2 separate regions of the Homo sapiens genome follow, and region 1 is linked to region 2. The links come from fine-mapping of genetic effects on gene expression. A gene starts in region 2. The other region holds a variant in brackets. All regions are shown on one strand. Distances are from middle to middle. Region 1 overlaps PPP2R5A (protein phosphatase 2 regulatory subunit B'alpha). Region 2 holds the start of PACC1 (proton activated chloride channel 1).

Evidence for each region. PIP is the estimated chance that this variant, and not a neighbour inherited with it, causes the effect.
Region 1: its variant is the best candidate, but not a certain one, in a credible set for the expression of PACC1 in CD4 T cells (BLUEPRINT, PIP 0.60).

Annotation. Positions count from the first base shown.
Region 1 is chr1:212,336,725-212,342,106 of GRCh38, forward strand. All of the region lies in intron 3 of PPP2R5A (protein phosphatase 2 regulatory subunit B'alpha), which reads left to right. Among named protein-coding and RNA genes, the nearest start is that of SNORA16B, 13 kb to the right of the region's middle. The variant T/TA (reference allele first, on the strand shown) is at 3,268.
Region 2 is chr1:212,412,774-212,418,155 of GRCh38, forward strand. PACC1 (proton activated chloride channel 1) reads right to left here and starts at 2,113. Exons shown (of 8, transcript NM_018252.3): 1 at 1,949-2,113. The coding sequence starts at 1,984. RefSeq lists a silencer at 1,765-1,824.

The sequences.
Region 1 (5,382 bases), 76 kb before region 2:
CAAATTAGATTATAGGGAATTGTAGCACTGAAGAAATTTGCTCAATGAAAGTTTCTTCTGCTATTATAATGTGTGCTTAACCCACCTGGAATTCTTTTGTTTCGTACTAAAAGTTTACGTTTTACATTTAGCTTATGAGATCCTAGATGCTAGAAACTAATTTATTAGGGTGGAAAATAAACATTAGTTGTTAATGAGGGAGTAATTACAAGTAATCTCAAAACCTTTCAAGCCTTTGTTTCCCCACCCTTTTCATGAATTTTCTAAACATGTGCTAATAAAAGTTTATCTGTTTTTACTTATTCTTACACTGTAATGGAAATACTAATGAGCAATGGAATAATGGAATAAAAAGAGATAGAAGAAAGGACCACAAGGAAGGTCATTTCAGTATTAGGGGATAGGTTGTATCTTCTAATTTATTAAGTGTAGTATTACATGGTAACTTAATGTACAACAGTTTTAAATTATTTTCTCATTTCTTTCCTAAGTATTATTGCTTTCTATTTATTGAAGACTAACAATATATTAATTTTCTGCACTTTTAGATAATTAGGACACTTGGCTGCTGTACTAGCCTGGAATACAGGCAGATTGTGTATTTTCACTTTCTTTTATTAATTACTTTAGTGGCACAGATAATTAAGATTTAATTATGTAGGATAGTGCCTAGAACATAGACCTTTTTAGGAATAAGTTGTATTTTAGGGATTAGAAGGCTTTTCTCTCTGGGCAATATAATTAGAAATTTAAACTAGCAACATACATATATTACAGTGTACACCTTTACATTCAAATAACTCTTGGCCATATACTATATTTTAAATATTTTCATGGGCTAAGAATCCAAAATGGTAGGAATCATAGCCTAATGCACTAACTTTATAGCCACAAAAATAAAAAGGAATATCTTTTATATAAGGTTGAGAAATACTTTCATTGCTTTGGCCTTTTTCATTGTGAATAGTTATTATCTTTTTAGTTCTTATGGATAAAAGAGCAGAGGGAAAAAACCTAGGCTCCCTGTATTTAAACTATTCAAGGTTTATGCACAATCTGTGTTTTCACAAGGATTACAGAGAAAAACAGATTCTTAAAAAACTAAGATTTTGTTAATGTTTACCTCATCCCAGGCAATGTTCTTTTTGGGTGCTTAATATATAATATCTCATATAGTTGACTATGCATTAATTTTTATATGAATTCTTTTATATATTAAATCAATTAAAAACCTTATTTACGTTTCCTCTTAATAGAGGTTGGAAAACATTGGTCACCTGTATTACTTGAAAGCAGCCTCTTAGGTACTTGTAGGTCTTTAAAGTTTGCTTCTGAGTCTTTGCCTCTCTGACCCAAACATTTCTATTCCTTTAGCTTTTTGTATAGGTCTTATTTTTCAGATACTTTAATCATCTATGCTGTTTTCTGTTGGAACTTCTCCCAAGTCTTTTTAATGGTGAAGACCAGAATTCTATGTTTTATGTTAACTCCCTTAGGAAAGACATGGTCAGAACTCAGTAGAATAGTAAGATTACACTCCTCAATTCCCTATACTTTTTAGTTATCTTTCACTTTTTAGGGTATTTTTGGTGTACAGAAGTAGAAGGACTAGCCATACATTGAACATAGTTGAAGTTTGTCATTTTATTAGTGAACTGAATTCACTGGTGAAGTGCCTGTTTTTCTTTGCAACACTGTTTCTTAGATTCTTGGAGCAAGTTATTTGTATAGAAGACCATAGAAGGCTGGGCGCAGTGGCTCACGCCCACTTGTAATCCCAGCAATCCCAGTAATCCCAGCACTTTGGGAGGCTGAGGCAGGTGGATCATGAGGTCAGAAGGATCATGAGGTCAGGAGTTCGAGACCAGCCTGAACAACATGGTGAAACCCCGTCTCTACTAAGAATACAAAAATTAGCCAGGCATGGTGGCACACGCCTCTAATCCCAGCTACTCAGGAGGCTGAGGCAGGAGAATGGCTTGAACCCAGGAGGCAGAGGTTGCAGTGAGCCGACATTGCGCCATTGCACTCCAGCCTGGGCGACAAAGCAAGACTCTGTCTCAAAAAAAAAAAAGAAAGAAAACAAGACCATAGAAAAACTTCAGTCACTACGTAGAAACACACCTTCTTAACAAATGTGATTTTCATTCATTCAGTAAGCATCTATTGTGTGTCAAGCATTTTTGTAAACATTGAGGGTAAAGTAATGAACTAAGCAAAATCCCTTACATCCTAGCAGAGAAGAACAAAATAATAATAAAATAATTGGCATATATTCTATGTTACGGTGTGATACATTTTTTAAAATGTAGGATGGAGTAAATAGAGAGTGACACTGGGACAGGATAAATTTTATAGAAGCATAATCTCAATTATTCCATTTTGAAGATTTCCAGCTCTGTAGATCACTAGTGTTTCTTCTACCTCTATTTGGGATAACTATTCATCATTTTTATTTATTTATTTTTCTGAGATGGAGTTTTGCTCTTGTTGCCCAGGCTGGAATGCAATGGAGTAATCTCGGCTCACTGCAACCTCTGCCTCTCAGGTTCAAGCAATTCTCCTGCCTCAGCCTCCCAAGTAGCTGGGATTACAGGCATGCACCACCATGTCTGGCTAATTTTGTATTTTTAGTAGAGACGGGATTTCTGCATGTTGGCCAGGCTGGTCTGGAACTCCCGACCTCAGGTGATCCACCCGCCTCAGGCTCCCAAAGTGCTGGGATTACAGGTGTGAGCCACTGCACCCGGACCTCAATATGTATTTAAGTAACTTTTTGTCATCATCTCTTTAGTGGTGCTAAGTTGGCGGCATAACAGCATTTTGCTGCTAATTTTGACTGATCACCTAATGTTTACTGTGTCAGGTAAATGATGTAGATGAAAACTATGAAAGAATTTATATGTGGTATTTGTGAATGGCACAGGTTTCAATTATATATATGGTTCAATTATATATATGGTTTAGAGAATTCAGTTTGAGAGAATTAGAGAATTCAGTCTGATTTGTAGCTTGATGTCATAAAAGTCTCCCATAGGACAGGCTATTACTCTGAAAACTATTAAGCCTTAAACCCTATATTTCTGATGAAGATCTTAAGAAGGGAGAGTAAATAGGCTAATGCATGCCACATTTGGCTCATGTTTAATGTTTAACCTGATCCCACCTTATGGTGGAATCTCCAGGGATTTGCATAAAGATTTGGAGTCTATAATTCCATACCATCAACCTATACTCTGCATTCTCTTCATCTCAAGACATGCTGCT[T/TA]AAAAAAAAAAAAAAAAAAAAAAAAGCCAGGCATGGTGGCTTACACCTTACCAGCACGTTAGGATGCTGAGGCGGGTGCATAGCTTGAGCCTGGGAGTTCGAGACCAGCCTGGGCAACGTGGTGAAACTCTGTCTCTAAAAATAAATAAATATATATATTTTTAAATCAAGACATGCTGCTACATTTCTATAAAATAAAAGCCATCCTCTTCCTGAGGATCCAGAATCAAAACAAAGGATCTAGAATCAAAACAAATGCAGGGCTCAAGTTGCATATCCTCCTTAAAGCTTTTCCTACCTATTCCACAGTGATACAGCCCTTTTCTAAATAGCTCCTGCACTTATAGTCTGTGCCACATAATATAATTTTTGTGTAGTGAATGGGCTTTTTGAGCCATACCATCCCTAATGTCTGTTCATACTATACATAGCCCAGTACTGGACATGAAAATAGGCACTGAATGAATTAAGTTGTGCCGTTAATGAAACTGCATAGCAGTCCATGAGACTGTGCTGACTTTTCAGAGCGCTCTGTGATCAGTTTTGTATATCTTTTTGCACGTGTATACCCCAAAGCAAAATTATCTTTTATCTCTATTGTTGTTTGATTAGAAAATTATCTATGAATAAAAACTTAAATTGCTATCAAGTTTTATTTCTTGTTATATCCTTAATTTATGATAAACACAAAATGTTAGGTAACATTAGACCAGATAAGCATCACTCCTTTTCCACAGTTGGGCAGAGATACATCAAGCAAAATTGTATTTGCTCAGATCCCCAAACTTTTGTTAGCTGTAGACTGTTACTGAACTCACAGTAGTAAAAATGTGTTGTTACTTGGTGAATGATAAGGCCTAGATCTGGTAGTGCTTTTGTTTGCTCTAAGGTCTATTAATTTAATGTAGCAATCTTTCTTTTCCCTTTTTCTTTTCTAACTTCTACATCAACCTAACTGGCTACCTAAATGTTCATTGAATGACTGTTTTTGCTTTGGGATAGAATCCTCCTTTTTTATTTTTAGGGTGTTAAATTGATATAGTATTGTTTAATAGCTAATAAGATACATTTTGGGCTAAGTTTCTGCTTTTTATACCTATTAGGTTACAATAAAAAAAAACTTTAGTCATATTTGCCTTTCTCCTTGAAAGCAGGTATGATAGTGACAAGCTGAACCAAATATTTAATTCTGATTTGTGGTAGCAAGTGAACATTTGCTATTACTTGTAGGTTGCTTGGCACTTTTATAGAAGGCCTGCTATGACTTCTAGTTTATTTGCTGTGGTTGGTACACAGACATTTCTTCCCTAGCCCTGTACTTACGTAATTTGGTTCATTATTTCTCAAGTGTGGATAGGATATGCCTGGTTTTGATTTAATTAGTTTTCCCACTGTAGTTTTATAGAAAGACCAGAAGTTTTTCTTTTCCTTTCTTTTTAAAAATTAATGATACACTGCCTGTTTTATCTGGAGGTTGTTGACTCTGCATTTAAGAAACTCTGTAGTGATTAAATTGAGGTAGGTAGTAGTCCACTGGGAAGGAACATCTTCCTAGTGAGTATGGATTACAAAATAGGAATATATTTAATTAAGAAATATTTAATTTTATAGGCATTGTCCTTATTTTCTAGCTCCTGTAATTTAACGTTTTGCATCAAGTTATGTAAAGCAATAAATAAATCTCAAAGTTTATCAGCTTAGGAAACCAAATGGTGAATATATAGTTTCTAGGTTTGTTTGTTTATTTATTTATTTATTTTTCAGACAGAGTCTCACTCTGTTGCCCAGGCTGGAGTGCAGTGGTACGGCACAGTCACGGCTAACTGCAGCCTTGACCTCCAGACTCAAGCAGTCTTCCTACCTCAGCCTCCCAGTAGCTGGGACAACAGACATACGCCACCATGCCTGGCTAATTTTTTGATTATTTGTATAGACAGCGGTCTCACCATGTTGTCCAGGGTGGCCTCAAACTCCTGGGCTCAAGGGATTCTCCCACCTCAGCTTCCTAAAGTGTGTTGGGAGTACAGGTGTGAATTTTTAAAAAAAATTTTTTTTATCAACTCATTACATTTTATAATGAGATCTGAAATCTCCCCACTAAGTTGGTAAGAAAAG
Region 2 (5,382 bases):
ACCCCAAAGCATCCTGGACGCAGGAGCTGCCCACACCGTTAACAAGAGCTATCATTCACTGTGGGGTCACCATTTGCCAGACACTGAGCCAAGCGCTTTCCACACCAACTTATCTAATCCCCAAACAACCCTGGGAGGTAGGGACTTTTATTATCTTCATCTTTCAGACAAAGAAACTGAGGCTCAGAAAGTTATGTGACTCAATAAAAGTCACACAAACAGCAAGAGGCACAGCCAGGCACGAACGTGGGCTTTCTGACTTTTATCCACTGTGCTCCACACCCTATAAACCTAAAAACTTTCAGACACATCTCATTCCCCAGGATTCCCCCACTGTTTAGGGTACAGAATCTAGGGGTCATGGAATCCACAGCACTGGTTAAAATCCCTCAGACTCCTTTCAGACAAAGGAAACAGATGGAATAAAGGGGATGGGAGGAGAAATATAGAAATCTGTCCAAGGCCAGATTCCAGCCAAGATCCTACACTAAAAAATGGCAAGCCTTAGGCAAATCTCATCTGCCTTCAAGTTGGCTTCTCCCTCCACTGTAGGGCTAAGCCACCTGCTTTATATAGTCCACAAAGCCCTTCTGTGAATCAGTCTTTTACAAAGGGAGATATGTACAGCAGTAACTATTGACTAAGACAGAAGGCAGCAAGTTCATTATGAGAAGGACAGACAGAAATGCAGACGGGTCTGGAAAGCGGACCCCTATGGAACACATGGAACTTGAGGTAGCCCTTGACTTCTGGGGGCATTTTACCCAATGGAGCTTGGCGGAGCGTTGATGAAGGAATGGAGTGAGCACACGCACAGAGGCAGGAGCACATTTTAAAACTGAGTTTCCACTGTGCCAGACCCTAGGTGGGTTAGGAGGTGGCAAAGGTAATGGGAGACATGGCTGCTGTGCTGTTCAGAGCTTTGGGAGCCTGCTGAGAAGTCTGGACTGTTCTGGGCAGACGAAGGGCAGCGTCAGGTCTGAGAAAAAAGGAATGCTCCGAGGTGAAGGCAGGGCCTCAAGGCAAATCTGGAGAGTATAAGAGACTAAAGGGAGCGATGGTAACACAGTATCGCACTCAGAGGTTACAGCAAACACAGGGACACAAACTGGAGGAGGACCGACCTGGAACTGCCTGACTTTGGCCAATGAGGCGGCACGATGGAGGGGCACAGAAGAGGACGGTTGCCAAAGATGACCAAGGTTTGGGGGCCGAGAAGTGGAGGCGGAGGAGGAGAGCAGTTTCACTAATACAGCTGGAGAAGTGAGGAGGCAGGGCTTGCTTGAAGGAAGCGCTGGACGCACAGCCTGCAGCGCAGGACAGAGAAGAGACAAAGAACTGGAAAGTGATAAAGTCGTGGGAGGAGGTGAGACTGGAGGGAGAGACGAAGAGGAGCGAGAACTAGCAGAGTCCATGAAGGCACTTTTTCAAAGTTAGGTGGTCACCAAAAAACAGGTAATCAATCCTGTCACCAGCCGCGGGGACAGCGAGGCCTTGGGCTTGGAGGGGGAGGATGCCGACGATGCCGACCGCGCATCAGATCTCGCCGGGAGGAGGGCGCGGGCGCTCCACTTGTTGCAAAGAACGCCGGGTTCCTCTGGGCCATTGGGCTGCCGCTCCGGCGGGGAGCGCGGAAGGCTGGGCCTCAGGTAGCTTCAATCATTCACCTGCTGGTTACGGGTCGCGGCGCCGGGGACCCTACTCCGGACCTCGGCCATGCAACCCGCAGCATACGGAGAACGCTGGGCGCCCGCTCCGCTGCCCCGCTTCCTTCCTGCCCCTGGGCCGCTCCTCTGCACCCCGGGAGCCCTCCCCTGACGCACCCGTCGGTCCCTCGGAAGAGCCCTCTGCCGCGCAGCCCCGACACCCCCCGCCCCGCATCCGCCCAGGCCCCCGGGACCCTGCTCCTCCGCCTCAAACTTCCCTTCCGTCTCTCACAACCTCGTACCTCCTGGTAGGATGTGGAGCGCTCCTGCCGGATCATGGCACTGACCAGAGCTTCGGCACACCTGAGACCGCCCCAGCCCGCGGCGCACGGACGCAGCACTGCGGCCGCTGCACCTGGACCTACCGGCTCCGCGAGGCGAAACCGGTCCGGAGGGGCGTCCCAGAGACCAGGCGTGGCGATACTCGGCGCATGCGCCTGGCCGCTGCCGCCCAGGAGTCGCGAAAGTGTTGATGGGAAATGTAGTTCTGGGCGGGGGCGCCCCTCACACCAGCTCTCACCCCTGTGGCGGAGGCCTGCATGTGACCCTGGGCCAGCTAAGCTGGTCCTTAGACGCGTGCCTCTGCGTCTCTCACTTCCTCTCTTTGTTGGAGGGGGAGGGACGGAGAAGAGGAGTGGAAAGTGGAACAAAGTCAGATGAGTAGGAGCCCCTAATCTATAATTGCAAGAGGAAGCTTGGCCTGGCGGTTTAAAACGGTAATAAATGTCTGGAGAGCACTTTGTATGTTAGTTACAAAGCGCTCTCACTCACATTATGCCGTTGATTCTGCAAGGAACCCTGTAAGAAGGACATTTTTCTCCCTAATTTACAAATGAGGAAACTGAGGTACTTTGTTTCAGAAAGGATGCGGGTGGAGCGGTAATCAAATGAAGATTATTTCATCCAGGGGTAGACTGCGGAGCCCATGTTCTCTCCATTATTCCAGGGGCAGGAGTACCCCTAGGTTCTTGTCCTGGCTCTGACCCTCCCCTTTAGGTCTTGCAATGCTCTGAGCCCTCCTCTCCTCGCCTTAGAATGCAACTGCTAAACCCTGCCCTGCCTGACAAGGCCTATGAAAGCAGAAAGGAAGGATCGTGCAGAGAAAGCCTAAAGCCGCTGTTCAGCCACAGAAGAAGCCTCAAGCGCTAGATGTGGCGTCAAATCTGGTGTTGGCCCTGTGGCAGGGTGGACCTGAAGACCACATCTTCCTCTCCTCCCACTGCCTGAAACAGCTGTTGTGTGAGGGCCCTCGGCTCCTCAGTGGTGAAGCAGATAGAGGCTGCTTGTTGTGCCTTGGTGAATGCTGCTCTGTGTCCCTTGCAGCTGCAGCTTGGTAACCCCTCCACTCAGGCCACTGGGAGCCTCTTCTCTCCTCAGTGATAAGCAGAATAGTGCCAGCCACATCAAAGAACCCTGGACCTCCTGGAGCATTAGCAATGGGAGGTCCCCATCACCTCTCCTGACCACTCACCCCTATCCTAGGCCCTCTGCTCTTAAATCTGTTATATGGGACAATATATATAGTGCCTAACACATTGTAGGCACTCGACAAATGTTTGTTAAATTTATGAATGGAACACTGATTCCAGCCATTTCATTTAACAGTTGCTTACCAAAACAAATTAACAATAGCAGACCACTAATTAAATTCCTTACTGTGTTAATACAATGGTACTTGATAGAACAAGTTCACACCATCATAGAATATTAGAGCTGGAAGGAACCAGAGAATTCTATTCCAACCCTGTCATTCCTCTCTAGTCTTTGTTGGTGTGACCAAACTGGAAAATTATGGGCTCCCACATTTGAAGGAGATACTGGCTAATAAAATATAAAATATGGCTTAACAAATACAATGTGCTGGGCACTGGGATACAGAAATGGATAAGATACCCTTGGGTCCTGGCTTTCGTGGCTCTTTCATGCAACTGTGGAGAGACAGATCATAAACATGTAAATAATGTTCTGTCCTTGCAGCCCCCAAGTCCTCTCTCCCATTCCTTCATGAGCACACACCAGTCAGGCTTTACTCCCCTCCACTCCACTGGAACAGTGCTTGTCAAGGTCACAAGTGACCTCAGTGTTGTCACATCAGATGGCCATTTTCCCATCCTCCTCTTTCTTGATTTATCAGCCACAGTGGACTTGGCTGATCCTCCCTCCTCCTTGATACGCGTTCCTCCCTGGCTTCCAGGACACCACACACTCCCGGCTTGCTCCTACCTCACTTTGAAGCCATCCTCACAGGGTTAACACGAATTCTGCACAGAAATAGAGTTATAATTAAGCATTAATCAGGCTGTAATTTGACCCACTTCCTTGTAGCCAAAAGTCATGTAGCACTAGATACTGACCATTTGCATCTCCACTGCTCCTACAGGTAGGATTTCTGACATTGGAATCATAAGGCTTTTGCTTAAGAATTGTTTAAGGCCAGGCCCAGTGGCTCACGCCTGTAATCCCAACTCTTTAGGAGGCCGAGGCGGGCGGATTGCCTGAGGTCAGGAGTTCGAGACCAGCCTGGCCAACATGGTAAAACTTCATCTTTACTAAAAATACAAAAATTAACCAGGCATGGTGGCGGGCACCTATAATCCCAGCCTCCCTAGCCTCCCTACTCAGGAGGCTGAGGCAGGAGAATCGCTTGAACCCGGGAGGCAGAGGTTGCAGTGAGCCAAGATCACACCATTGCACTCCAGCCTGGGCGACAATAGCAAAATTCTGTCTCAAAAAAAAAAATTGCTTAAAATGTTTTTCAGATCACAAATTCCAGTGAAACAGCTGACACCAACAAGTTTGAAGACACCAACAGAGGAATGGAATCAGCATGAGAATACAGCTGCTTCTCTCTCTGTCCAATGATTTCACCCTGTTCCCTTTGGCCAATCAGCAGTCTCCACACTTCAGCCTACTCCTTAAAAACCCTTAGAAAAGCCGCAAACTCCTTGAGAGAGGGTTTGAGGTTCCCCTCCATCTCCTCGATTGGAGGCCCTATTGGTAAGCCTCTTTTTCTACTGCAACTCCGTCTTGGCATATTGACTTGCTGCACACATCAGGCAACAGGCCTATTACAGTTACAGTTACTGCTCTTTCTCAGCCTCTCTGCTGACTTCTCCTCATCTCAGCTCTACAGGGCGGACTTTCCCAAAGCTAGGTTTGTTGTTGTTGTTTTGGTTTTTTTTAGATGGAGTCTCGCTCTGTCACCCAGGGTGGAGTGCAGTGCGGCAATCTTGGTTCACTGTAACCTCTGCCTCCCGGGCTCAAGTGATTCTCCTGCCTCAGCCTTCCAAATAGCTGGGATTACAGGTGCCTGCCACCATGCCTGGCTAAAATTTTCATATTTTTAGTAGAGACGGGGTTTCGTCATGTTGGCCAGGCTGGTCTCAATCTCCTGACCTCAAGTGATCTGTCTACCTCAGCCTCCCAAAGTGCTGGGGGAATTATAGGCGAGAACCACCACGCCCAGCCCCAAAGCTAGATTTTCCACCTCCTTTCTATTCACTCCGTAGGGGCTAGTGAAGTGGTCACCTCTAGCCTCATGGCTTGAATTATCATCTATACCCTAAAGATTCCTGCTATAATTGACTTGTGTTCCCCCAAAATATGTTGAGGACCTAGACCTCAGTACCTCAGAATGTGACCTTAGATGGAAATAGGGTCATTGCAGATGTAACTA